4 linked regions of the Homo sapiens genome follow. The protein of the gene in region 1 purifies or fractionates together with the protein of each later gene. This does not show direct contact. Each region holds a gene or a part of one and is shown on either strand. Other genes may lie near its edges.

What was found.
Region 2: the proteins of CLPSL1 (region 1) and ZYG11B purify together in Homo sapiens (affinity purification with mass spectrometry; 3 studies listed by BioGRID and IntAct, with this or other methods). This does not show direct contact.
Region 3: the proteins of CLPSL1 (region 1) and NUDT15 purify together in Homo sapiens (affinity purification with mass spectrometry; 3 studies listed by BioGRID and IntAct, with this or other methods). This does not show direct contact.
Region 4: the proteins of CLPSL1 (region 1) and SLC30A5 purify together in Homo sapiens (affinity purification with mass spectrometry; 3 studies listed by BioGRID and IntAct, with this or other methods). This does not show direct contact.

What each region holds. Positions count from the first base shown.
Region 1 is NC_000006.12:35,776,989-35,784,044, reverse strand, and holds the start of CLPSL1 (colipase-like protein 1 isoform 1 precursor), read right to left. Parts: upstream 3,027-7,056; 5' UTR 2,935-3,026; coding exon 2,836-2,934; intron 1-2,835. Other genes in the region: CLPSL2 (colipase-like protein 2), read right to left, coding at 4,515-4,690, 6,116-6,194, 6,464-6,586.
Region 2 is NC_000001.11:52,729,449-52,736,474, reverse strand, and holds part of ZYG11B (protein zyg-11 homolog B), read right to left. Parts: intron 1-7,026. UniProt on the Homo sapiens protein: Serves as substrate adapter subunit in the E3 ubiquitin ligase complex ZYG11B-CUL2-Elongin BC. Acts to target substrates bearing N-terminal degrons for proteasomal degradation with the first four residues of substrates being the key recognition elements.
Region 3 is NC_000013.11:48,032,989-48,040,737, reverse strand, and holds the start of NUDT15 (nucleotide triphosphate diphosphatase NUDT15), read right to left. Parts: upstream 3,013-7,749; 5' UTR 2,992-3,012; coding exon 2,834-2,991; exon of another isoform or gene 2,746-2,833; intron 1-2,745. UniProt on the Homo sapiens protein: May catalyze the hydrolysis of nucleoside triphosphates including dGTP, dTTP, dCTP, their oxidized forms like 8-oxo-dGTP and the prodrug thiopurine derivatives 6-thio-dGTP and 6-thio-GTP.
Region 4 is NC_000005.10:69,125,014-69,131,595, reverse strand, and holds the end of SLC30A5 (proton-coupled zinc antiporter SLC30A5), read right to left. Parts: intron 3,593-6,582; coding exon 3,464-3,592; intron 2,150-3,463; coding exon 1,979-2,149; 3' UTR 527-1,978; downstream 1-526. UniProt on the Homo sapiens protein: Together with SLC30A6 forms a functional proton-coupled zinc ion antiporter mediating zinc entry into the lumen of organelles along the secretory pathway.

The sequences.
Region 1 (7,056 bases):
GGTGCACCCCAGCCACCTGAGGCTGTATCACAGGTGTGTCCCTAACCTTGGCAAAATAAACTTTCTAAATTGACTGAGACCTGTCTCAGATATTTTGGGTTCACACTAGTAACTGCACTATTGGACACACACAGCTCTAGAGAGGGAAGACAGGGAAGAGATACATAAGTGAAATGATACGGTATCACAGAAAAAACGTTGAGCAAAATAAGTCAGATTTTTTTTTTTTTTTTTTTTTGGAGATAGAGTCTCGCCGTCGCCCAGGCTGGAATGCAGTGGTGCGATCTCGGCTCACTGCAAGCTGTGCCTCCCAGGTTCACGCCATTCTCCTGCCTCAGCCTCCTGAGTAGCTGGGATTACAGGCACCCGCCACCACGCACAGCTAATTTTTTTTGTATTTTTAGTAGAGACAGGGTTTCACTGTGTTAGCCAGGATGGTCTTGATCTCCTGACCTCGTGATCTGCCTGCCTCGGCCTCCCAAAATGCTGGGATTACAGGCATGAGCCACCGCGCCCAGCCCCCCTTTTTTTTTTTGAGACAAAGTCTCACTCTACTGCCCAGGCTGGAGTGCAATGGCACTTTCTTGGCTTAGTTCAACCTCTGCCTCCCGGGTTCAAGCAATTCTCCTGCCTCAGCCTCCCAAGTAGCTGGGATTATAGGCATGTGCCACCACACCCAGCTAATTTTGTATTTTTAGTAGAGATGGGCTTTCACCATGTTGGTCAGGCTGTTCTCGAACTCTTGACGTCAGGTGATCCACTTGCCTCGGCCTTCCAAAGTGTTAGGATTACAGGCGTGAGCCACTGCGCCTGGCCCAAATTTTTTTTTAAAAGTACATACTGTGTGATTTCATCATACAAAGTTCAAAACTAATCTATAATAATGGAAGTCAGGAGACAGTTGCCTTTGGTGCTATTGACTAGGAGAGTAAGAGTGAGGCTTTTGGGGTAATGAAAATGTCCTATATCTTGTTCTGACGGTAGTGATGAGGGGGTCTGCATAGGTTCGAATCCATTGATTTCCATGTAAACTCAAGATCTGAGCACCTAGTAAGGTGTGATTTTTACCACATATGTTATATACATAACAATAAGTAATATTTATATTATATATGTATAATCCTATTATGTACGATTATGTGCTATAAAGAAAATAAGGCAGGAAAGGAGGATTGGCTATAGCCGCCTCCCGGCCTCCCTGCTTCCATCCTTGCCAGTGACCTCCCCCAGGTACCCCCTCACCATCCCCACTCTCACTTCCACCTCCCCAACCTCCTCAAGTCAGTTCTTCCCAGAATAGCTAGAGGAGTCTTTTTTAAAAGATAATTCCCACAATGCCATTCTCTGGATTCAAAGCCATCACTGGGGCTCTGAATCCACACCTGGCCTGGCCCCAGGGCATTTGCGCTTGCTGGCCCTCTGCCCAGAGCACCCTGTCCTGCACTCTTTGCCCGGCTGCCTCCCCCTCCTGCCTCAGGCTGAAGACTTCCTGGACACCAGCAGAGCAGTCCCCATCACCTGGTTGTACTTTGTTCACAACACTTATGACTCTCTGAAATCATCTTATTTATATGTTTAAAAATAATTTATTTCCCCCGCTAGCAACCTCAGCTCTGGGACATGGATCTTCTGCTCTCACGTTCACTGCTATATTTCTTAGCCCCCTTGGACTAAAGTCCTTACACATTGCAGGTGCTGAATGCATAACTGTTGAATAAATGAGAATATTGTAACTGTGTTCCATTTATCTCTCTGAGCTCATCTCCCATGATTTCCACTCTCTCTTACTCCTCTTTGCTATTCCTTGAATATGCCAGCACATTTCCGCCCCCAGACCTTTGCCCTGGCTGTTCCCTCCACCTTGAATGCTCTTCTCCCAGAGACCCCCCTGCTTTGCCGGTTAGGAAGGACTTCCCTCCCTTTAGGTCTTTGCTAAAATTTCACATTCTTAGTAAACTCTTCCCTGAGCACCCCATTTAAAACTGCAAACCCTGGCCAGGTGCGGTGGCTTACGCCTGTAATCCTAGCACTTTGGGAGGCCAAGGCGGGTGGATTGCTTGAGGTCAGGAGTTCAAGACCAGCCTGACCAATACGGTGAAACCCTGTCTCTACTAAAAATACAGAAAAAAAAATTAGCTGGGCGTGGCAGTGGGTGCCTGTAATCTCAGCTACTCGGGAGGCTGAGGCAGGGGAATCGCTTGAACTCAGGAGGCTAAGTTTGCAGTGAGCCGAGATTGCCCCACTGCACTCCAGCCTGGGTGACAAAGCAAGACTCTGTCCCAAAAAAAAGAAAAAGAAAAAGAAAAAAAAAAAAAACACCTGCAAACCCTTCTCACACCACCACTCCCACAGCTCGATTCTTATTTTCCCTTTCCTTGCTTATCACCTGAGATAGATGCTATTATTAATAGCATCTATTGTAATGTTTTACTTCTTTGCCTCACACACTAGAGTGACAGCTCTACAAGGGCAAGGATTTTTATCTTTCTTGCTCACAGCCCTATCACTAAATGTAGAAAAATAATTTACATATAGTAGGTGCTCAATAAAAATGTGTTGCATGAGTGAATATCTGTCTCCCTTACCACATGTGCGCATGGGCAGGGGGGCTCTCTCACATTCACCTCTGTGGCAGCAGCACCTGGCACTGCCCTGGCACAGCTTCCAGGACCAGGTTGTTCTCTCTTTCCTCCGAGACATCTTCCACCCAACACTCCCTGCTGCCCCCACTTCTGGCCTTCTCCCACACTAGCCCCCATGCCCGCTCACCTCCCCAAATAGTACAGGCCTTAGGACAGTGGAGGGGGAGGTGACTGCACTCTCCAGCTTTCTTACCAAAAGGTTGTATTTTGTTGGAGAAAGTGAGCCCCTGGTGAGGAGGAAGAGAAAGAAGAAGAGAAGGAACAGCAGCAGCAGCCATTGGGGTAGCATCATGGCCCACAGGTCGTGGTGGCTTTTCTAGGGTCCAGCGAAATATCCTGCACGCCGACCATGTGGGTGTCCTCCCAGCTGTGGGAACACCATGTAAAACCAGCACCCAACCCCGTCAGAATTTTCCCATCCTGCACAATACTCAGGCTAGGCCAATCAGCAAATTCCACCACAATAATTAGTTCAGGCAGACTAAGCCAATCCAATCAGAACCGATCTTAGGATGTTTGCTGAAAATTGTGGAACAGAGATGTTTTCTTTCTCTGAAAGGCACAGTATTGATGTACATGGTGGATTTGTGGTTAAGAGCCTGGCCTCTGGGGCAGGATTGTCTGGGTTCAAGTCTCAGTTCCAACCCTTACTTTAGGAGCCTCGATACCCTGTTTGTAAAATAGGGATAATTATAACACCTACTATAGCCCTGTTGTGACAAAAAGATGAGTCAATACAGTTAAGAAAGCACTTTGGGCCAGGCGCAGTGGCTCATGCTTGTAATCCCAGCACTTTGGGAGGCTGAGGCAGGAGGATCACTTGAGCCCAGGAGTTTGAGACCAGCCAGGGCAATACAGTGAGGCCCTGTCTCTATTAAAAAAAAAAAAAGAAAAAGAAAAAGAAAAAAAATTGGCCGGGCATGGTGTCACACACCTGTAGTCCCAGTTACTTGGGAGGCTGACGTGGGAGGATCTTTTGAGCCCAGGGGGTTGAGGCTGCAGTACGCTGCGATCGAGCCACTGCACTCCAGCCTGGGTGCTGTCTTAAATTTTTTAATTAAATGAAAAAGAAAGCACTTTGCACAGTGTCTGGCACATAGGAAGTGCTCAATAAATCCTACCTGTTATTAGGTGACACCTGGAATGTTTGTGACTACTGGGAAGGAATTCAGCCTGAGAGCTGCTGGCTCTGGCCCTACCTAAGGGTTGCCTGACCTCTGGACTTTCATTTCCCATCACCAGTAAATCCCCTCCTCACCTAGACCAATTTGAGTTGGTTTTTAAGATACTTGCAGCAGAAAGAGGCCTCACTGCTACCCCAATGATATGACCTAGGGCAAGTCATGTCGCTTCTCTGGGCCTCAGTTTCTTTGTCCATGCAGTGAACCGACAATACCTGAGAGAGCGGAGGCATCCATGCACCAGGTCCCTTTCCCACCACAGGCATTTCTGCATTTATACTTTGCACATTCTCACCAACTCTCTAATGATCTCTACCCTTTTGTGCCCCACAACCCGCCCCGCAAAACATTCAGATACCTCCACCTAGTCTCTCCCTACCACACACCCCTCCATAGGCACCCCAACATACACTCTCCAGGTACATTCCTCAATCCCGTCTCTCCCACACAGCCCTCCAACCAGAGAATCAGCCCTTTCCCAGACCCAGCCCCTGCTCCACCACACCCTCCCTGTGCCATTCCCTTCCTGCAGTTCTACCCTGACCTCCGGACAGGGCCAAATCCCATTAGAAGCTCATTCATGCCTCCAGTCTCCCCTTTTGCCTGCCCCCTGGACTGGTACAATCTCCACCAGGTCCCCTCGCCCAGAAAGTACAGACAGAGGCCAAGGACAGGAAGTGACTTTAATGTCTCAGGAGCTGGATTTGGAGCAAGTTGGTGGCAACCAGGGCCTATGGCCCCAAGGGAGCAGTGACCAGCCTGCATCTTCCTCTAAATCATATGGCACCGGCGGGAACACATCAAGTCCTTGGATATGCACGTCAAGCCCATCCGGCAAGGGCAGATGATGTTGGTAGCTCCCTTGGTCTGCAGGGAGTGGGTATGAGAATCGGGAGTCACCAGGATGCAGGAAGGATGGGGACTTAAACTTCTTGGGGACCAGAACCAAGAGTACCAGGCCTGGAGTAAGACAGACCTGGGCTGTCTCTACAGCTTATAACTGCGTGACCTTCAGCAAGTCAATGAACCTCTCCAGCTCGGTTTCCTCATCTGTCAAATGGGGACAGTAATAGTAACCCCCCTCATAGGGTTGTTGTGAGGACTAAATGAGATAGAGCAGATCAAGTGGTGATAATAAAAAGACCCTTTAGGCCATGCGCGGTGGCTCACCCCTGTAATCCCAGCGCTTTGGAAGGCCGAGGCGGGTGGATCACCTGAGGTCAGGAGTTTGAGACTAGCCTGGCCAACATGGTCATGGACTAATAATATAAAAATTAGCACATGCCTGTAATCCCAGCTACTCCAGAGGCTGAGGCAGAGGAATTGCTTGAACCCAGGAGGTGGAGGTTGCAGTGGGCCAAGATCACGCCATTGCACTCCAGCCTGGGCAACAAGAGCAAAACTCTGTCTCAAAAAATAAAAAAAATAAAAACCCTCTAGCCACTTCAGCTATAGGGTCAGGCCATGGTAGGGGCCCTGCTGCTTCCTTAGGGCATTGGCAACTCCCCACACAGGGACATAGAGGCTGGGTCCATCCATCCTAGAAAGGTTTGGGCCCAGGGCCAGGTGGGCAGGAACAGGGCGTACTGAGCATTCTGCTCCCTGCATTCCTAAAAGCGAGTGACAACCATGCTGGACTGCACACTCTCCTTGCCAGGACCACATAATCTTCCCAACAGCCTGGTGGGGTAGGTACTTTAGCCTCTCCTTGTAGATGAGGAAACTAAGGCTCAGAGAGCCATGATGACCTGCTTGAAGTCACAAAGATAGGGTGTGGAAAAGTCAGGATTTAAACTCAGGTCCAACTGCAAAGCTGTGGTCCTGCCACTGCAGTGCCATGCTCCTCTCAAGAAATCATGTCACTGTGGCAGGGAGATGGGGACTAGTAAGGGGAAGGTCATTTCCTACTTACCCTGCCTCAGTGGTGTGAGAGAAGAGATATTCATTCATTCAACAAGCATTTATTGGCCGGGCACGGTGGCTCATGCCTATAATCCCAGCACCTTGGGAGGCCGAGCCAGGTGGATCACCTGAGGTCAGGAGTTCAAGACCGGCTTGGCCAACATGGCAAAACCCCATCTCTACCAAAGATACGAAAATTAGCCAGGCATAGCGGTGCACCCCTGTAATCCCAGCTACTCGGGAGGCTGAGGCCCAAGAATCGCTTGAACCCAGGAGGCAGAGGTTGCAGTGAGCCGAGATCATGCCATTGCACTCTAGCCTGGGTGACAGAGCGAGACTCCATCTCGAAACAAACAAACAAACAACAATAAGCATTTATTGAGCACCTACTATGTGCAGATACTAAGCTGGGGGTAGGTGCTTCATAGATGAATATGATGCGATCCCTGCCCTTGAAGAGTTCCAACCACTGGGAGAGGCAGAGAAAAGACATGGCCAGTTAGGGAGATACATGGTCTGCTGAGGGTCTGACCCCAGGGTACAGGAGCTCCAAGGAGGGAAGCCTTCTCAGAGGAGGTGGCTGGAGTTGTTTTGCACCATGAGTAGGAGTTTGCCAAGTGGAGAAGAAGAAGGGCACTCCAGACAGAGGTGAAAAAACAGGTGGGGCCAGGTGTTTTTTTTTTAACCTCCCTGCCCGCTTCTCTACTTGCCAGAAGTTGCCCCATACTAGGGCCTCACCTGGGGCAAGCAGATCATGGTTATTCTGGCCCTGGGGGCACAGAAGGCTCCACCGGAGTCCAAGTCCATGAGGCAGCAGCCACTGTAGCACTCAGAGTGGTGGAAGCACCTGTCTGTGATTTTCTGTGGGGACAGGCAGAATGTCTGCCAGGCTGGGAGCAATCCCTGAGTCGTGTGGGCGGGTAGGGGAGGGTTCCCACCATTGCCAAAGAGCCCAGGGATCCAGGAGAAGTCATGAGGTTGTCACCCCTTGGGGGGCTGGTTCCCCCCCCAGCCCCACCCCGGCCCCTCAGCAGGACCCAGGGCAGCAGAGAGGAGGAGAGGGGGATTAGCACTTTTCCCTCGGCCTCTCCTTTCCTGGACCCCCCTCACCTCCATGAGTCCCATGGGGTGTGTACTCTTAAGTCCCATTTTGCGGGGCAGGGTTGGGGGATGAGAATGAAGGGGCTGCGGGCTCGAAAAAGAGGGAGAGAAAGAGGAGAAAAGGGGAGAGCCCTCGTGCCTGGAAGAATCACTAGACAGTGAGAGGAGGTGGAAGAAGAGGAGGAGAAACCAGAGCATGCAGGGTGGGTTTGCCTGTGAGCAGTTTGGGG
Region 2 (7,026 bases), on another chromosome or scaffold:
TCTCAAAAAAAAGAAAAAAAAGAAAAAGAAAAAAATTAGCTGGGCATGGTAGTGCATGCCTGTGATACTCAGGAGGCTGAGGTGGGAGAATCACTTGATCCCGGGAGGCAGAGGTTCTAGTGAGCTGAGATCACGCCACTGCACTTCAGCTTGGGTGACAGAGAGAAACTCTGTCTCAATAAATAAATAAATAAATAAAACACTTTCATTCAACAACTATTTGCTGAGTCCCTACTATGTGCTAGACATCACCAAGTACACAGGATACAGATCTCTGTAGATTCACTGCTGTCTATATGAATGGCTGTTAGCTGAATTGTGCAGTACAATCTGTATAGCACAGCAGCCCTGTAAGACCACTGTAAACTAGCAGGGCCGAAACTGCAGGCTCCACAAGGATCTTAAGGAGTTCACAAATTCCCATGCATATCAAGTACACTCTGTACACAATAATATCTTGATATTTTTAATGCATAATAGATGTTAGACTTAACAGAGTATCATTTTAAAATATTACTGAATTCCTACTGGACCTGCTTTTTGCTTTTTCTCCCCCACAATTAATATGTTCTGAAAGTATGTTACTGTCCTGTCTCTCAAGGTTTTCAGTGTTAAAAAGGTATCTTCACAGGGTCTATTGTCTCAGACAATAGGGAGGAATTTAAAACTTCTGAGTAGGAAGACCAAGGCAGGCAGATCACTTGAGGTCAGGAGTTCGAGACCAGCCTAGCCAACATAGTGAAACCCCATCTCTTCTAAAAAATACAAAAATTAGCCGGGCATGGCAGTGGGCGCCTGTAGTTCCAGCTATTCAGAAGGCTGAGGCAGGAGAATCACTTGAACTCGGGAGGCGGAGGCTGCAGTGAGCCGAGATCGCGCCACTGCACTCCAGTCTGGGTGGCAGAGAGAGACTCTGTCTCAAAATAAAAAAAATTCTGAGTAGGAAGAGTGGCACGCCTCCAGTCTTTTCTCATTCCACCCTTGCCTAGTTACTATACAATTTCTTTTTCTTTCATTTATGAGCCTGAAAAATCTTAATCACAATTACTTAGTGTGAGAATAATACTTGTAGCATTAAGTTTGTCAAAGAAATACTTAAGTGCTGAAGACATATTGTTCTTCAAAGTGCTTTAGAAAAGTGATTTGGGCCGGGCACGGTGGCTCATGCCTGTAATCCCAGCACTCTGGGAGGCCGAGGCAGGCGGATCACCAGAGGTTGGGAGTTCGATACCAGCCTGACCAACATGGAGAAACCCCTCTCTACTAAAAATACAAAATTAGCCAGGCATGGTGGCACATGCCTGTAATCCCAGCTACTAGGGAGGCTAAGGCAGGAGAACCGCTTGAACCTGGGAGGCGGAGGCTGCGGTGAGCCGAGATCGCGCCATTGCACTCCAGCCTGGGCAACGAGAGAAACTCCGTCTCAAAAAAAAAAAAAGTGATTTGGACCGGGCGCAGTGGCTCATACCTGTAATCCCAAAACTTTGGGAAGCCAAGGCGGGCGGATCACCTGAGGTCAGGAGTTCAAGACAAGCCTGACCAACATGGAGAAACCCTGTCTCTACCAAAAATACAAAAATTAGCTGAGCACGGTGGCACATGCCTGTAATCCCAGCTACTCGGGGGGCTGAGGCAGGAAAATCGTTTGAACCCGGGAGGTGGACGTTGTGTTGAGCCCAGATTGCACCATTGCACTCCAACCTGGGCAACAAGAGCGAAACTCCATCTCAAAATAAAAGAAAAAGAAAAAGAAAATTGGTCAGAGAGTGTGTACAATTTTGTGGTTCTTGAACTCATACTGCCAAATCACTTTTTTTTTTTTTGGAGCCAGAGTTTCACTCTTGTTGCCCAGGCTGGAGTGCAATGGCGCGATCTCGGCTCACTGCAACCTCCGCCTCCCAGGTTCAAGTGGTTCTCCTGCCTCAGCCTTCTGAGTAGCTGGTATCACAGGCATGCGCTACCACACCCAGCTAATTTTTTATTTTTTATTTTTTTTTGAGATGGCAACAGATTGAGACTCTTTAAAAAAAAAAACCTTTTATTCCATTGTTAATAATGACTATTTCTACCGCTTATTAAATATACTTTAAGAGCTAGTTTTAGGACCTATGAAAAAAGCAGTGTTTTAGCCAGCATTTCCCAATTCATCTACAGGCTCACATCATTACATTCAATATTGATGTCTGCCGGGCTCATGGCTTGACATCCCAGCACTTTGATGGGCTGAGGCAGTAGGATCACTTGAGCCCAGGAGTTTGAGACCAGCCTGGCAACATAATCTAGACCCTACCTCTACAAAAATAAAAAAAATTAGCTGGGCATGCTGGCATATGCCTGTGGTCCCAGCAACTCAGGAGGATGAAGCAAGAGATCATCTAAGCCCAGGAGTTCATGGTTATAGTGAGCTATGATTACGCCCCTGCACTCCAGCCTGGGCCACAGAGCAAGACCCTGTCACTATGAAAAAACAAAACAAAAAAAAATTATGTCTATTTCAATTTGTATATTTTTGAATATTTAATAATTATCTAAAATTTTCTCCTTTATAAAAATAGAATAGTTTGAGAGTATCCAACAATTTATCTACTGAATGTGTGTCAATTAGTGGGAATTAGGAGAATGGCTCATGATAAAGTCATTGCATTGTTATAACTTAATCTGAACACTGAATGCAGTAGCTTTTCTTTGTATAACAAACTGTTAAAGACAAGAAATATAAGTACATTGATGATGAAATACAAGAATGAGTACATTTATCTGATCATGATTCTTAAATGATACATCAAGATATCTCTGATTGATTGATTGATTGATCTTACAGTGTCTTGCTCTGTTGCCCAGCCTGGAGTGCAGTGGTGTGAACCCTGCTCACTGCAGCTTCAACCTCCTAGGCTCAAGCAATCCTCCCACCTCAGCATCCTGTGTAGCTGAGACCCCAGATGTGCGCTAATTTTTTCATTCTGTGTAGAGATAGGGTCTCACTATCTTGTCCAGGCTGGTCTCGAACTCCTGGGCTCAAGCAATCCACCCACCTTTGTCTCCCAAAGTGTTGGGATTATAGATGTGGATTACAGGCGTGAGCCACCATGCCCAGCCTCACAAAAACTATACAAAAAATATACTCTTGGAAATCATTAAGCATGACCTCTAGAACAAACACATTTAATAAAAAAGAATAAAAACTAACATTCTATTTAAGAGATATTACTATTATTTTGAAATCAGGGAACCTATAAAAGGTTTGATATACAAATTTTACCACAGAGTAAAATCTGATAAAACTTTCTCAGTAACTTAAGATAATTTTACGTACAGAAATTCAATGCAAGATACTCTGAAAATGACTAGAATGATGATCCTACAGAGAACTAGCTGAGGCTTGTTTGTAAATTTTACTGAAATAGGAAATAATTCTGTCTTTGTATACAATTGCTTCCACGCATGAGCTTTATCTAAGGAAAATAACCTCCTATGTTGGGTTAATAATTTTTTTTTTTTGAGATGGAGTTTCACTCTTTTTGCCCAGGCTGGAGTGCAATGGCTCGATCTCAGCTTACTGCAACCTCCGCGCCCCCCGGGTTCAAGTGATTCTCCTGCCTCAGCCTCCGGAGTAGCTGGGATTACAGGCACCCGCCACCACGCTCGGCTAATTTTTGTATTTTTAGTAGAGACAGGGTTTCACCACATTGGCCAGGGTGGCCTTTTTTTTTTGAGACAGAGTCTTGCTCTGTCGCCAGGCTGGAGTGCAGTGGCACAATCTCGGCTCACTGCAACCTCTGCCTCCCGGGTTCAAGCGATTCTCCTGCCTCAGACTCCTGAGTAGTTGGGACTACTGGTGTGTGCCACCACGCTCAGCTAGTTTTTCTATTTTTAGTAGAGACGGGGTGTCTTTTTTTAACCTCTGTAATCACAGTGTCTCAATCTCTTGACCTCGTGATCCGTCTGCCTTGGCCTCCCAAAGTGCTGGGATTACAGGCGTGAGCCACCACACCCGGCCAAATTATTAATTTAGAATTTTAGTCAGCTAATAAATTATATGTCTAATAATAGGGGGAGATACAGAATGCCACTAGTGTTAATATTTAATCTCTGTATACAAGATATAATTTTCTTTTAAGCAAGAAGGAAATTTAGTAAGATTTCCCTCCTATTGTAGGACATTTCTCCACTTGTGCTTCTGAATAACTCTGATTCATACTGGCCTGAGACTGCTCAGACTTATGGTTCAAAAGCATAAGCTTGGAAGGGATTTCAATTTATTTATTGATTCCCCTACACACATCCTTTTTCAAGTTTCAAGAACACATTTACTGATACTAATAATAACTTCCATCTTTTTAGTTCAAAATGTCACTGTCATAAGAAAAAAATAGGCTGGGCACGATGGCTCAGGCCTGTAATCCCAGGACTTTGGGAAGCCAAAGTGGGCAGATCACGTGAGTCCAGGAGTTTGAGAGCAGCCTGGGCAACATGGTGAAACCCCATCTCTACAGAAATACAAAAATTAGCCTGGCGTGGTACTGCACGCCTGTAGTCCCAGCTGCTTGAGTTGGATGAGGCGGGAGGATGGCTTGGGCCTGGGAGGTCGAGACTGCAGCAAGCCGTGGTTGCACCACTGAACTCCAGCCTGGGTGACAGAGTGAGATCCTGTCTCAAAAATAAATAAATAAATAAAAGCTATTAGTGTTGCTGCTTAACCATCCCATCTAAAATAGTTGCCCTCTCACACACACACAATATCACTTTATATCTTAGCCTGGTTTATTTTTTCTTAGTATTTATTATATAACTATTGTCATTATACATTTATAGGTGTATTTATTGTGTATCCCCTCCCTGTACCCCATGTCTTTTTTTCACTTCTGTAATCACAGTGCCTAGAACATCACCTAGCCCTTAGGAGCTGGTCAAAAATCATCTCTTTATCAATGATTTTTATATTCTGGACATGGAAAGAGACTCTAATCAAATAATTACAGTAAGAAATATAAAATTCCTGTTGCTATGTATTCTATGAAAAAGTGCTACATAATAAAGAGGAGAGTGACCTAGGTTTTTTGGACAGCGTTTCCCTGAGTTCCTTGAATGGAGAACTCCAGGATATGTTAGAGTTAGGCAGGCAAGAGAGAGTATCACCACAGGTCATTTGCACATGCTGCTCCTTCTGTCTGGACTCTTTTTTTTTTTTTTCTTTTTTTTTGAGATGGAGCCTCACTCTGTTGCCCAGGCTGGAGTGCAGTGGCACAATCGCAGCTCACACTGCAGCCTCCACCTCCCGGGTTCAAGCAATTCTCCTGCCTCAGCCTCCCGAGTAGCTGGGATTACAGGCACCTGCCACCATGCACAGCTTATTTTTGCATTTTTAGTAGAGACGGGGTTTCTCCATATTGGTCAGGCTGGTCTTGAACTCCTGACCTCAGGTGATTCACCCACCTCGGCCTCCCAAACTGCTGGGATTACAGGCATGAGCCACTGCACCCAGCCTATCTGGACTATTCTTTACATAACTCCTACAATTTAATCCCTCAGTTCTCTACTTGAAAGTAAGACCCTCTGCAAAGCTACTCCTAACTATTCCATTCCATTATTCCACAACTTCTCTTTTCTTTCCTTTCTATTTTTTTTTTTTTTTAATGAGGTCTCGCTCTGTTGCCCAGGCTGGAGTGCAGTGGCATGATCATAACTCAATGCAGCCTTGAACTGCTGGGCTCAAGTGAGCCTCCCACCTCAGGCTTTAGAGCAGATGGTACTACAGGCATGCACCACCATGCCCAGCTATCAACTTGTCCTTTTTCAGCACACTCAAGATATATTAAAACTCTTCACATTTAAAATTACTGTATGAAGGCTGGATGCAGTGGCTTGTGCCTGTAATCCCAGCACTTTGGGAGGCCAAAGCGGGAAGATCCCTGGAGGCCAGAAGTTTGGTACCAGCCTGGCCAACACAGGGAGATCTCTTCTCTACACAAAAACAAAAAATCAGCTGCACATAATAGAGCACACTTGAAGTCCTAGCTTTACTTGGGAGGCTGAGCTGGAAGGACTGCTTGAGCCTAGGGGTTTGAGGCTGCAATGAGCCGTAATCACGCCGCTGCACTCCAGTCTAGGCGGCAGAGCCAGACCCTATCTCAAAATAAATAAATAAATACATAATAAAATAAAATTACTCTATATACATGAGATGAAAAATGCCAGAGGTCACATCTATTTTACTATCTGTCATTTCCCCAGTGTCAACACAGTCAAAGACACTCCAAAAACATTATTAGATTAATTAAAAGTAAGGACTATGTCTTAGACCAGTAGTTCTCAAATTGTGGTTCACAGACCAGCAGCATCAGCATTATGTGGGTTTTGACAGAAATGCAAACTTTTGTAGTAGTTCACGTCTATAATTCCAGCACTCTGGGAGGCTGAGGCAGGAGGATCACTGGAGCCCAGGAGTTTGAGGCCAGCCTAGGCAACATGGCGAAACCCCATCTCTGCAAAACATATAAAAATTAGCCAGGTGTGATGATGGGCACCTGTGGTCCCAGCTACTTGGGAGGCTGAGGTGAGAGGATCGCTTGAGCCTGGGAAGTCAAGGCTGCAGTGAGCTGTGATCATGCCACTGCACTTCAGCTTAGGGACAGAGCAAGACCCTGCCTCAAAAAAAAAAGAACTGCCACCTCTCAGGCCCTGCCCTCAGTTCACTGCAACCTCCACCTCCTGGGTTCAAGTGATTCTCCTACCTCAGCCTCCCGAGTAGCTGGGATTACAGGCATGTGCCACCACACCCAGCTAATTTTTGTATTTTTAGTAGAGACGAGGCTTTGCCATGTTGGCCAGGCTGGTCTCGAACTCCTGACATCTTAAACATCTCAACTATTCAAACACAACCTAATTAACATTTAACAAATATAAAATACAAAGCTTTATAATAATCATTCATTCAACTGTATTTATTATCTACAAAAATATTGCACGAGAAAGTGGCCTCTACTGATAATTCCTAGCTCAAAATAAGCTAATATTCTGCCTTCTCCT
Region 3 (7,749 bases), on another chromosome or scaffold:
AACAACAAATCAGCTGGGCATGTGGCTCATGTCTGTAATCTTTTGGAAGGCCGAGGCAAGAGGACAGCTTGAGTTCAGGAGTTGGAGACCAGCTGAGGCCAACATAGTGAGACCTCATCTCTCAAAAAAAAAAAAAATAGCCGGGCATGGTGGTGCGTGCCTATGGTCTGTGGTCCCAGCTACTCAAGAGGCTGAGGCAAGAGGATAGTTTGAGCCTGGGAAGTCAAGGCTGCAGTGAGCCATGATGGTGCCATTGCACTCCAGCCTGGACAAACAGCAAGACTTTGTCTCAAAAAATAGTAATAATAATTAATTAAAAAGATAAAGATTTAAAACCAGTAAATCAGCAACCTTGCCCTTGACATTATATCCTGTATCTAGTTATCTAAAGATGAAAAGGACTTAATATTGAATAAAAATTAACATTTAGCCATCTCAGCACTAATTTACAGCCCTGGAACCTGTGTGTAACAAGGAGGCAGTTTAGTGCATTAAGAGCAGACTTTGGAGTCAACTAGACCTGGGATTGAGCTCAAAGTTCATTACTTTCCACCTTGGACAAGTAAAAAGAGATTATATTACTTCCTCATGGGGTCACTGTAATTGTATCAAGAAGTGCCACTATGTCTTTTCCAGCAGTCTCAGAATTTCAATTTAAGCCTCAAAACTGAAGACAATAGGTAAAAAGCACTTCTAAATTCTCAAGCAAAAGGGCAAACAGATGTCATCTGAGCTCAAGCTCAAGCTAAGGAAGGCCAGACTAGACCTGTGACTTCTCCGTATCCAGGCTACATAAGAAAGACAGGAGGCCGGGCGCGGTGGCTCACGCCTGTAATCCCAGCACTTTGGGAGGCCGAGGCGGGCGGATCACGAGGTCAGGAGATCGAGACCATCCCGGCTAAAACGGTGAAACCCCGTCTCTACTAAAAATACAAAAAATTAGCCGGGCGTAGTGGCGGGCGCCTGTAGTCCCAGCTACTTGGGAGGCTGAGGCAGGAGAATGGCGTGAACCCGGGAGGCGGAGCTTGCAGTGAGCCGAGATCCCGCCACTGCACTCCAGCCTGGGTGACAGAGCGAGACTCCGTCTCAAAAAAAAAAAAAAAAAAAAAAAAAGGAGATGTTTGAGACAGAGGAAAGTTTGGAGTTTTCAGCCTAGTAGGAGCATTTCCCTTCCAGACTACAAGGGGCCAACTCTGCCCCCCCAAGACAGGTGAGGAACATTCCAAGAGAATCAGTCACAAGATTGGGAGTGACTCAAGAAGGAGATACTCAGTGTGTCACTCCCCTGCTAAAGACATCCTGAGCTGCAGAAACTCACAGGCCTACCCCAGTGCATCAGAAAAGGTGTGCTACAAGGGTGAAAGCTCTTGGGTAAATCTGAAATGTGTCCCTCGGAGTTTCCAGATGCAGATGAATACAGAGGTAGAGCAAGGAAAAAGGGCAGCAGTGGAAATATCATTCCCATTGTGTGTTTCCTTTGGGCCAAGCAGATGCCACAAGAGACTGCTGGGTAATCAAATAGGAGATCCCAGTAGAAAGAAAATGTGGGGTGATGTGCTAAAAGCAAGAGCTAGGAGGTGGGCCAGCATCACAGAAAGCCCGTCACCTATGTCAGGAAAATCTCTGTGGGACTTCCCAACAACTGACAAACATACCCTGAGAAAGCACACATGTGGATATCATGCCCAGAGGACACCAATGGATGGATCAGAGCAGCATCAGTCACCTGAATGGCTTGCTCTCTCTCCTCCTCCAACACACTGGAGAAAGAAGGAAACTCAGAGACAGCCAGGTGAGAAGAGGAGGAGGATACAGAAAAGCAGAACAATGGCTCACACCTCCTTTATGCACTGCAGGGGAGGGATTAGAAACTGGAAGTGACACTGAAGGTTTAAATTGGATTGGACTTTTAAATGCTTGGAAGTGAATCATACTGACCCAAATGTGATTTATTTTTATAACCAAGTGACAAGAAAACTATAGAATTTGCAGGAAACGTCACTGAAGAGGGAAAGAAAAAATCATGTTTGAAGGCAGTGGAAGGAGAAAATAAAACCATTTCCTGTTTGTTCTCCCATCAAATTTAGCCCACTGAGTATGCCAGTTATGTAAAGATCAAATGAAAGTATACATGCAAAGAGCTTGGCATATTATCCAGCCTTTAACAAAAAGCCCATTAGAGCTCAATGTTGGCTATGGTCATTGACCTCACGGGTGGATCACCTGAGGTCAGGAGTTCGAGACCAGCCTGGCCAACATGGCGAAACCCCGTCTCTACTAAAAATACAAAAATTAGCACGGCGTGGTAGCGGGCGCCTGTAATCCCAGCTACCAGGAGGCTGAGACACAAAAATCGCTTGAACCCAGGAGGCGGAGGTTGCAGTGACTGGAGATAGCACCACTGCACTCTGGCCTGGGCTACAGAGCGAGACACAGTCTCAAATCAATCAATCGATCAATCAATCAATCACATGGAAACGGTGCAATGTCTTAGCTGACAATATCGGGCTGCTGGAGGTTTACACACACCTGCTTTCCTCCTTTTGTGTGTAAGCTGTGAGAAACACACCTCACAGACGAACTCCCAACCACCACCCAGCAGGGGCGCAGCCGGAAAGACCCAGCTAGCAAAGACCTCGCCTGACCCAGCACAGCGCCCCCTCCTGGGCGCGATCCTACGTCGCCCAGAAGTCGAGGGGAGGAACCGAGGGAACGCGCAAGAAAGGACGCAGCGTCAGCGCGGACGTTCTCACGCACGGCACACGGAAGCAAGCACGGCGTGAGTTCGTCCCTCTGCGCACGCCCCGGTTTCCTCGCGTCCGCGGCTGCTCACCCGAACTCCAGATGACCTCCAGGGAGTTGGAAACTGCCAGCTCCAACCGAGCCTTTCCTCTTCCCCAGGAGGACGCAACGCGGATGCTTGCAGCTGGTCACCACGACTCCGACTCCGACTCCTGGCCGCCGCCCGCGCGGCTGTGCGCTGGCCGTCATAGCGCGCGGGAGGACGCGCCTGGCAGCGGCAGGAAGTGACGCGCTCACTACCCCGTCCCGCGGCCGCAGCCAATCTCTCCCCGCGAGGGCGGAGGCGCCGAAATCAAAGCGAGAGCGCCTCGGCCTCTCCAGCTGTCCGCGGTGCGTAATGCGTCGCGGAGGGCTATCAGGTTGGGGAATGCCGTGTTTCCTTCCGAAGGGCAGCGTGCCTTAGAGTTTCGCTGTAACTAAAGTCGCTTACAGTTGTGCTTTGAATATTCATCACCCGTCAGCCTATCCACTCCCAGATTCCTGCAAACCATGCATTTACATGTACAAGCCGCCTGCTCTTACCAACCTCGGCACCACTGCACATTCTTTTTTCCGTGAATGACCTCGCCCACCATGGTGCACCCATTTGCCCTGTAGCTCAAATCAGCGTGGTACCAGGATAAGGATAGGTCGTTTAGAAACATCCCATTATAAACAACTATGCTTAAGGTATATTCATAAGTCATGGGAGGAAATAAAGGCTAATTGATAAATCATGCTGGGAAGAGTTAGTTACAAACAGTGGAAAACAGACATTTTCAGATGTTTGCACACCATGCACCATGCAAAATACAAACCAGCTGAATCATAAAAACAAATGACTAGTTACTGGGAGGGTTTTCTCTCTTTCTCATTATTTTTACTTCTACCAAAGTAATGTGCACATACTGGTAATTTTATTTTATTTTAATTTTCACCAAGCTAGCTAATTTTCTTTCTTTTTTTTTTTTTTGTGGAGGTGGGCTGTCGGTCTTTTGTCGAGGCTGATCTCCAACTCCTGTCCTCAAGCAGTCCTTCCACTTGGGCCTACCAGAGTGCTGGGATAACAGGCGTGAACCACTGCGCCTGACCTATAGCTATAATTTTAAGAAGTAAAATGGTGCAAAAACCGCAACAAGAGCAACCTGACCCTCCTACTTTCAGAAACAATCACTTTTAACTCTTTGAACTGTATTTCTGATATTTGCCTACTTATTTCTAAGTAATATGCTTACTCTCCATGTTATACTAAATGGGTATTAAGCTTTTCACAGCATCTCTCCTCACTATCAACATTCACATTCATTACAAAGGTACTTACAATATCTTCTCAAAAAATGGTAGTATATAAAAAGGATAATATATTGAACAATGAGATTAATCCCAGAAATACTAGGTTGGCTTAATATTTGAAAAGCCAATGTAATTCAGCATATTAACAGAGGGAGAAAGGAAATACATATAATCATCTCAATAGATGCAGAAAAAAATTAATAAAATCCGATACTCAGTTGTGATTAAAAAAACTCCACAAAATCTCTGAGCAAACTAGAAATAAAATGAAACTTTAACATGATATATGGCATCTACAAAGACCTACAGCTAACATCATATTTAATGACTGTTTTGAGCTGAATTGTGTCCCCTCAAAATTCCTATGTCGAAGTCCTATCCCCCAGTACCTCAGCATTTGGAGACAGGATCAAGTTAAAATGAAGCCACTAGGGTAGGCCCTATTCTAATGTTATGACTGGTGTCCTCGCAAGAAGTAGAGATTAGAACCCAGACTGTGTTCTATTGGAAGACTGTATGATGACACAGGGAGAAGGCAGCCGTCTACAAGCCAAGGAGAGCAGCCTCAGAAGAAACCAAGTCTGCTGACACCTTGATCTTAGAATTCTAGCCTCCAGTATTGTGAGAAAATTAATTTATGTTATTTAAGCCACACAATCTTTGATACTTTGTTATGGCTTGATACTTTGTTATGGCAGCCATAGCACTAGCCTAGCCTTATCTTGGTGAAAGACAAGATTTGGGAGGAGCTAGGGTATCCACTCTGAGCACGTTTAGTCATCATGTTGCTGGAGATTCTAGTTAGCACAACTCATAAAATTTAAAAATCAATAAAACGTAGTTAAATTGGAAAGGAATAAGTAACCGTCTTTTTTTTTTAAAACAATCCTGAGGAATTAATTAAAAAGCCATTAGAAGAAATAAGTTTAGCAAGGTCGTAGGATTCAAGGTTAATATACACAATTGATTATATTTCTATATATTAGCAATGAACAATTGAAAAGTAAATTTTTAAAACAATACCATTTATAATACCATAAAAAACATAAAATACTTAGAAATATATTTAGCAAAAGATATGGAACACTTGTATACAGAAGACTATAAAACTGAACCAAAAATAAAATTCTAAGCACCTCCACCCCCAGCCATCTGAATGGACTCCTTCCTCTTGGCCAGAGCACTCCAAAGTTAACCTGAAAAACTGGTTGAAGCCATGACAGAGCAGGGGTCAGATATGCCTCATTATGCCACCTTTCTTTTGGAATTCAGGAAAAGCCAACTAGCATTTAACATTAACACAGACCTTAAGTCTGATAAGAAACATTTACAATCTAGTCTCTCTGAAGCCTGCTACCTGGAGGCTTCAGCTGCATGATAAAATTTTGGTCTCCACAACGTCTTATCTTAACCCAGACATTCCTTTCTATTGATAATAACTGTTTCAACCAATTGCCAATCAGAAAAATTTAAATCTACCTATAACCTGGAACCCCTGCCCCACTTCAAGTTGTCTCGCCTTTCTGGACCAAACCAATGGTCAATCTGTATCTTAAGTGTATTTGATTGAAGTCTCATGTCTCCCTAAAATGTATAAAACCAAGCTGCTCCCCAACCACCTTGGGCATATGTTGTCAGGGTCTCCCAAGGGCTGTGTCACAGGCCATGGTCACTCATATTTGGCTCAGAATACATCCCTTCAACTATTTTACAGAGTTTGACTTCTTCCTTTTTTTTAATTTCAAGTTTTTGGTTACATGGATTCGTTCTTTAGCTGTGATTTCTGAAATTTTAGTGCACCCATCACCTGAGTAGTGTACACTATATGTAGTCTTTTATTCCTCACTCCCCTCCAAACTTTCCCCTCCGAGTCCCCAAAGCCCACTGTATCACTCTTATGCCTTTGCATCCTCATAGCTTAACTCCCACTTGTGAGAACTTACAATATTTGCTTTTCCATTCCTGAGTTACTTCACTTAGAATAATGGCCTCCAGCTCCATCCAAGTTGCTGCATAAGACATTATCTTGTTCCTTTTTATGGCTGAGTAGTATTTTATGGTGTATATATACCACATTTTCTTTATCCATTCGTTGGTTGATGGACACTTAGGTTGGTTCCATGTCTTTGCAATTGCAAATTGTGCTGCTATATGTGCATGTGTTTTTTTTTTTTTTTTTTTTTTTGGAGACAGTCTCACTCTGTTGCCCAGGCTGGAGTGCAGTGGCGCAATCTCGGCTCACTGCAAGCTCCGCCTCCCACGTTCACGCCATTCTCCTGCCTCAGTCTCCTGAGTAGCTGGGACTACAGGCGCCCACCACTGCGCCTGGCTAATTTTTTTGTATTTTTAGTAGAGACGGGGTTTCACCATGGTCTTGATCTCCTGACCTCGTGATCTGCCTGCCTCGGCCTCCCAAAGTGCTGGGATTACAGGCGTGAGCCACCGAGCCCGGCCGCATGTGTGTTTTTTATGTAATGACTTATTTTCCTTTGGGTAGATATTCCGTAGTGGGATTGCTGGATTGAATGGTAGTTCTACTTTTAGTTCCTTAAGGAATGTCTATACTGTTTTCCATAGTGGTTGTACTAGTTTACATTTCCAGTAGCAGTGTAAAAGTGTTCCCTTTTCCTCACATCCAGGCCAACATCTATTGTTTTTTTACTTTTTTGTAATGGCCATTCTTACAGGCGTAAGGTGGTATCTCACGTTTTAATTTGCGTTTCCCTGATGCTTGTGATGTTGAACATTTTTTCATGTTTGTTGGCTGTTTGTATATTTTCTTTTGATAAATGTTTATTCATGTCCTTTGCCCACTTTTTGATGGGATTGTTTGTTTTTTTCTTGCTGATTTGTTTGCATTCCTTGTAGATTCTGCATACTAGTCCTTTGTCAGATGCGTAGTTTGCCAGAGTTGGACTCTTTTCATTGATAGAATGTTGCTGAAGAAAATAAAATACTTAAGTAAAAGAAGAGAAATATTATACTCATGGATCAGAAGACTCAATATTGTTAAAATATCAATTCTCTACAAATTAATTTATATAGATTCAATGCAGTCCTGATCAGAATACCAGAAGGCTTCCCTTTCCAGTAGAAATAGATAGGTTGATTCTAAAATTGGTATGGAAACACAAATAACTAGAATAATAGAAACAGTTTTTAAAAAGAAAACATTTAGAGGGTTCACACCATTTGATTTCAAGACTTAGGATTAAGCCACAGTAATCAAGAGAGTATGGTGTTGGTAAAAACATAGACATATAGATCAGTGAAACAAAATGGACTGGAAATAGATCCATATATATGTATATATCCATATATAAATTAATTTTTGAAAAATGTGCAAAGGCAATTCAATAAAGAAAAGATAGTATTTTTAACAAATGGTGCTGGAACAAGTTGACATAAATGTAAACAAAAAGCCTTGATTTATAATTGGCACCATATATAAAAATTAGCTCAAAGTGGATTGTAGACCTAAATAAAAACATCTAAAGTATACAATTTGTACAAGAAAATATAGGTAAAAATCTTTGTGATCTTTGGTTAGGTATAGATTTCGTAGCTATGAAAAGAATGACCCTTAAAAAATGATAATCTGGCTTTCACCCAAATTAAAACCTTTTTCTCTTTGAGAGATACTGCTGTGGACTCAACTGTGTTCCCACAAAATTG
Region 4 (6,582 bases), on another chromosome or scaffold:
AAAATCTTTCTGTGTCACCCAGGCTGGAGAGCAGTGGTGCCATCATGGCTCACTGCAGCCTTGGCCTCCTAGGTTCAAGCAATCCTCCTGCCTCAGCCTCCCAAGAGGTATGTGCCACCATGCCCCAGCTAATTTTTAAAAATTTTTGTAGAGATGGAATCTTGCTATGTTGCTCAGGCTGTTCTCAAACTCCTGGGCTCAAGCTATCCTTTTGCTTTAGCCTCCCAAAGTGCCAGGATTTCAGGCAAGAGACACTGCACCTGGCCTAGTTGCATGATTTGCATGAGCTGAAATACAGTACCCTGGTGCTTTCAATATTAGAGTTTCCATACTTTATAATTGTACCTCCCCAACCTTCAGCCCCTGCTCTCTCTCACTCTAATATCTCACAATCACATTAATTTTTTTGCTGTTTATATGTCTTCTAAGGGAAATGACAATTTTAACTTTGGTGTAATATTTATTGCACCTATCTACTTAATTTTTTAATGTATAAAAATTGCATTAAAACATCAATATGCAATTATTTTCCCACCACTCAAAAATTTTAATATGTATTGAAGATTTTGGCCAAAAAATATGCAAAAGACAAGGAATATAAAAATAACTTACAACAAATTTCTAAAACCCCTCATATATTAAAATTGGTAAGACAAAAATATGATTTATAATACATGTTTGCCATTGTGGTATATATAAGAAAATAGTACTCATACTAAATTCAATCTACTTATCAAAATTCTTAATATAAGAATGAAAATATTCAGATGTTATAAATAGAAAGACAGGTATTAAAAAGTTTCTTTTGGACAACATTCTTTGGTGCTGATAAAACTGCATGTTATTGTCTATGGTAAAGTCTTTTCAGACTTTACTACATATCTAGTTACAACTGGAAATGAAAAAAATATAAATTAGATATGACTATAGAAAGTAGTTATAGGGTATTTTGATTTCATGGTGCTCAAATGTTTATGAACAAGTTTTACTTATTAAACTTTGAAATAACTACCTATTCTTTGATATTTCTTATATATCTATATGTTCCAGAAATTAGAAAAAAGTTACCTACATAGGCAGAGAATTCAACTGTGAGTTGACAATTATTTACGATTCTCTTAACTGGCTGTTTCACAACGTTATGGAGCTAAGAAAGGATGAAAGCTTACCACTGCTTGGATACCAGCTTGATAAGCAGCTTGGAATGTCAAATATATAACAAGAAAGGAAATATTCTACTTTAAAGGAACATGGTAAGTAAATGAATAACATGGACACAACTTAGTATAAGTTCTTTACCCTAATAAATTAATTATTCATTTGCAAATATTACCAAAAGTAAAAAAAATTTATTTTATAGAGTGGTTGATTTTTGTAATACATCAAAAACTGTGATGTTATACACTTCCCTATTCTCATTGCTTATCTCATATCAGTGGTTGAAGTTTCTCCCAAATAATTTAGTTTACATTTAAAGTGGCAATACAGATTTTACTTAATGGACTTAAGTTATAATTAGAAACCAGTTTTATATACAGAAAATCCATAAATATAGAACTTTTATTCCTATTTTATCTTTAGGCTATGCAAAAAATGGACTAAAAATTTTTCATTTGGGTCTTTGTAATAAACATGTAAATACATATTTACAATGGAGATGCTTCCTGATAGAAAGTAAACAGAAGTAATTTTGGTCTTCACTAGAATCCATCATATCTATTTTTGAAGATGATGTAATACATCATGTTTACTCAAAATTTGATTCCTTTTATACACATAATTTAAATAATTACTCCACTTTTACCATTAATGTTTCATTCTGTATTTAAATTTCCTTCAAGAAAGATTCCTTGATCCAGTAGTAGGGAACTCTGTTTCTGTACAGTTAATGTGTAATTTTTATCCTTCTGGCAATATTACAAATACTGAGTCATTTAATCTTCATTGTTTATTCTCCAGGGGTAATTCTTGAGTTATCTCACATGATGTAAGTACCATCTTTGCAGTATTTCATGGATTCCATTTGTTTTGTCATAGCCAGAACATCATGAAATCCAGTACTTAGGCCAGACATATGTTGAAAGTATGCCTCCTTTTCCACTTGAATTGTTAAATTGTTTACTCCAGCATCTTTAAGTATTCCTGTAACCTGTTATAAAAATCCAGATATTTTGAAGCATTTAGAGTAATGCATTTAGTACACACGTCTTAATATGCTGTACATAGTTGATACGGGTTGAGTATCTTTAATCTGAAAATACGAAATCTGAGACGCTCTAAAATCTGAAACTTTTTGAGTGCCAAGATGGTGTTAAAAGGAAATGCTCATTGGAGCATTTTGGATTTGGATTTTCAGATTAGGGATGCTCAACTGGTAAGCGTAATGCGAGTATTAAAAAAAATAAAATCGCAAATCGAAAACACTTCTGGTTCCAAGCATTTTAGATAAGGAATATTAAACCTGTGTCACATTTTTAAAATAGTTACAGGCCAGGCACAGTGGCCCAGGGAGGCTGAGGCAGGAGGATCGCTTGAGCCCAGGAGTTTGAGACCAGCCTGGGCAACATAGTGAGATCTTGTCTCTAAAATGAATGAGTAAACAAACAAACAAACAGTTACAGTAGTCCAAGATAAATCTTCGAAGTAATATTCATCATTTAGTTAGTTAAAATATTAGACTCTTTTAGGTCAGTAAATTACTGATTTGACATTCACAGTAGAAAAGGAAAACAGCCATTGTTTCCAATTTGGCACATCTAGAACAGGGCTTTAGTAACTATTCTGACCTCTATCTCCAAACATAGCATATACCCTGCCAAGTTGATTATTACTAATTTAGGAATATATTTATAATAACTTATTTTTTGATAATCTACTGGAAACCAAGATTAATCAAACTCATAAATGAATTTTTTTATATTAATTAAAGCTTATCCTCTAAACACAAAACTTCATTTATTTTAGCAATTTTTAGATATAAAACAAATCTAGATGTAAAAAGTAAGCTATATTACCGTTACAGATTTGGAAGATTAGGCCGGGCATGATGGCTTGCCTATAAACCCAGCACTTTGGGAGGTCGAGGCAGGCGGATCACCTGAGGTCAGGAGTTTGAGACTAGACTGGCCAACATGGCGAAACCCCATCTCTACTAAAAATACAAACAAACAAACAAAAATAGGCGGGCATGGTGACGGGTGCCTATAATCCCAGCGACTTGGGAGGCTGAGGCAGGGAGACTGCTTGAACCCAGGAGGCGGAGGTTGCAGTGGGCCGAGATCACGCCACTGCACTCCAGCCTGGGCAACAGAGTGAGACCCTGTCTCAAAAAAAAAAAAAAAAAAAGAGTTGGAAGATTGATATTTCTGAATAGTAAATGACTACTGAGCCATATAACTTATGAGGTGTACAATTTTGGGTATGAATGACCTCAATTAAAATTACTTTAAAAACAAAAGATTACCTGCTGTACTATTCTTTGTTCTAGCACATCAGATGTCACCTGTATATGAATTGTTCCTGCCACAATACTAGCAGAATGACGCCAAAAATGAGGGTCTCGGTATGATATTAATCCTTCAATTTTCTGTATCTGTCAAATAAAAGAGGTGATATAAATGGTCATACAGGCTACTTTACACAACACAATGGAGATGCTTTCTGACAGAAAGTAAACACACAGATTCCTTGGTCCAGGATCACTATTAAGCTCTTTAAAATACAAAACAAAACAAACAAAAAACCAGCCATAATGAGAAGCCAGAAGCAGGAAGGAATAGGAGATGGGAAAATAGCTTAAAGTAAAGGTGCCTAAAATATTCTGATCTATTTCTGGAGGCTACAGATGTGTGGGGGAAAAAAAATCTCACCTAGGAATGATGCTAGTATGGCAGCTCTGAGTAGGAAGGCAAATGGGTGTTACAGGTATCTTTATTTTGTTCGTTTTTGTTTTTTTTGAGACAGTCTTGCTCTGTCGCAGGCTGGAGTGCAGTGGCACCATCTTGGCTCACTGCAACCTCAGCCTCCCAGGTTCAGGCAATTCTCCTGCCTCAGCCTCCCAAGTAGCTGACTACGGGTGCACGCCACCACGCCTGGCTAAATTTTTTTTTTTTTTTTTTTTTTGTATTTTAGTACAGATGGGGTTTCACCATGTTGCCCAGGCTGGTCTCGAACTCCTGAGTTCAGGCAATCCACCCACCTCAGCCTCCCGAAGTGCTAGGATTATAGGTGTGGACCACCGTGCCCAGCTGTTACAGTTATCTTTATACCTAAAATGGGCTCTTATCAATAGCAGTACCCTTATTTTCCCTGATACAGCACAACTCTGCCTATTCTAATCATGACCTAGACACATTCAATGAACTACAAGTTCTCCTTTACACGGACACATTCATATGCACATTATTTGTTATATAGAGATAACACATTCAAAAGATATCCTCAATGTTCAACAACAGAGGATTGGTTAAATAAATGATTGACTGCCCATACAATGTAATAATGCAGTCATTAACAATGTATTAGAATATTAATCAACATGACATTATTAAGTGGGGAGAAAATTTATAAAACATTACGAAAGTTTTTTGCCATTTTTATTTTCAAAATTTTAATATGGAAACAACTTGTAAAAATGTTTCTTTACATGGCTTTTTGTAGAATGGGAAGGAAACAAAAAGTATTTCTTTCCAGGTGGTAAAATTATGTGATTTTTTTTTTTCTTTTTTGCACTTTTCTATATTTTGAAGTTTTCTGCAATGGATATATATACATATATATATATATTTTGTTGTTGTTGTTGTTGTTGTTTGTTTGTTTGTTTTTTTAAGACAGAGTCTCACTCTGTCGCCCAGGCTGGAGTGCAGTGGTGTGATCTCGGCTCACTGCAACCTCTGCCTCCTGGGTTCAAGCGATTCTTCTGCCTCAGCCTCCCGAATAGCTGGGACTACAGGCACGTGCCACCACACCCAGCTAATTTTTGTATTTTTTGTAGTTTTAGTAGAGATGGGGTTTCACCATATTGACCAGGCTGGTCTCAAACTCCTGACCTTGTGATCCGCCCGCCTCGGCCTCCCAAAGTTCTGGGATTACAGGTGTGAGCCGCCACGCCTGGCCTACAACAGACATATATTATTATTGAAATAAAAAATACTTTAGGCCAGGCGCGGTGGCTCACGCCCATAATCCCTCACTTTGGAAGGCCAAAGCTTGAGCTCAGGATTTCAAGACCAGCCCGGGCAACATTGAGAAACCCCAGCTCTATTTAAAAACAAAACAAACAAACAAAAACTTAAAAAAACCCCATGATGTACTACTATCCAATAACTATGAGGTGAGATAACTTTACTAATTTTATTTATGAAAACAATGGGTTAAGATGATAGAACTTAAATATTCAAGATGCTATCTTTTCATCAGCAGATCCCAATTACTTTAATATGATGTAGTAAACCACGAGGTGAAAGAGAGTCTATTTTATATTTGTTTATTTCTAGGAATTGCTGGTTTATATTCTCATCTTATTTTTCTACATGACTGTTTTTCCTTTGAGACAGTCTTGCTCTGTTGCCCAGGCTGGAGTACAGTGGTGTGATTTTTGGCTCACTGCAACCTCTGCCTCCTGGGTTGAAGTGATTCTCATGCTTCAGCCACTCAGGTAGTTGGGATTACAGGTGTGCGATACTACTACACCCAGCTAATTTTTTTTTTTTTTTTTTTTTTTTTTGAGACGGAGTCTCGCTCTGTGGCCCGGGCTGGAGTGCAGTGGCGTGATCTCGGCTCACTGCAAGCTCCGCCTCCCAGGTTCATGGCTCACTGCAAGCTCCGCCTCCCAGGTTCATGCCATTCTCCTGCCTCAGCCTCCCGAGGAGCTGGGACTACAGGTGCCCACCACGGTGCCTGGCTAATTTTTTGTATTTTTTTTTAGTAGAGACGGGGTTTCACCATGTTAGCCAGGATGGTCTCAATCTCCTGACCTTGTGATCCGCCAGCCTTGGCCTCCCAAAGTGCTGGGATTACAGGCCTGAGCCACCGTGCCAGGCCTAATTTTTTTTTTTGTGTGTGGGGAAGGACAGAGTCTCGCTCTGTTGCCAGTCTCGCTCTGTTGCCATGGCGTGATCTCAGCTCACTGCAACCTCCACCTCCTGGGTTCAAGCGATTCTACTGACTCAGCCTCCTGAGTAGCTTGGATTACAGGTGCCCGCCACCATGCCCGGCTAATTTTTTATATTTTTAGTAGAGATGGGGTTTCATCATGTTAGCCAGGATGGTCTCAATCACCTGACCTCGTGATCTGCCTGCCTCAGCCTCCCAAAGTGCTGGGATTACAGGCGTGAGCCACCGTGCCCGACCCTAATTTTTGTATTTTTAGTAGAGATGGACTTTCACCATGTTGGCCAGGCTGACCTTGAACTCCTGGCCTCAGGTGATCTGCTCACCTCAGCCTCCCAAAGTGCTGGATTACAGGCATGAGCCACCATGCACAGCTAAGATTGTCTTTTTCTTGACTTAAAGAATTATGGACAGTAAACCTTTGCCTGTTTATATGTGCTGCAAATGTTTTTTCCTGGTCTGCCTTTTATG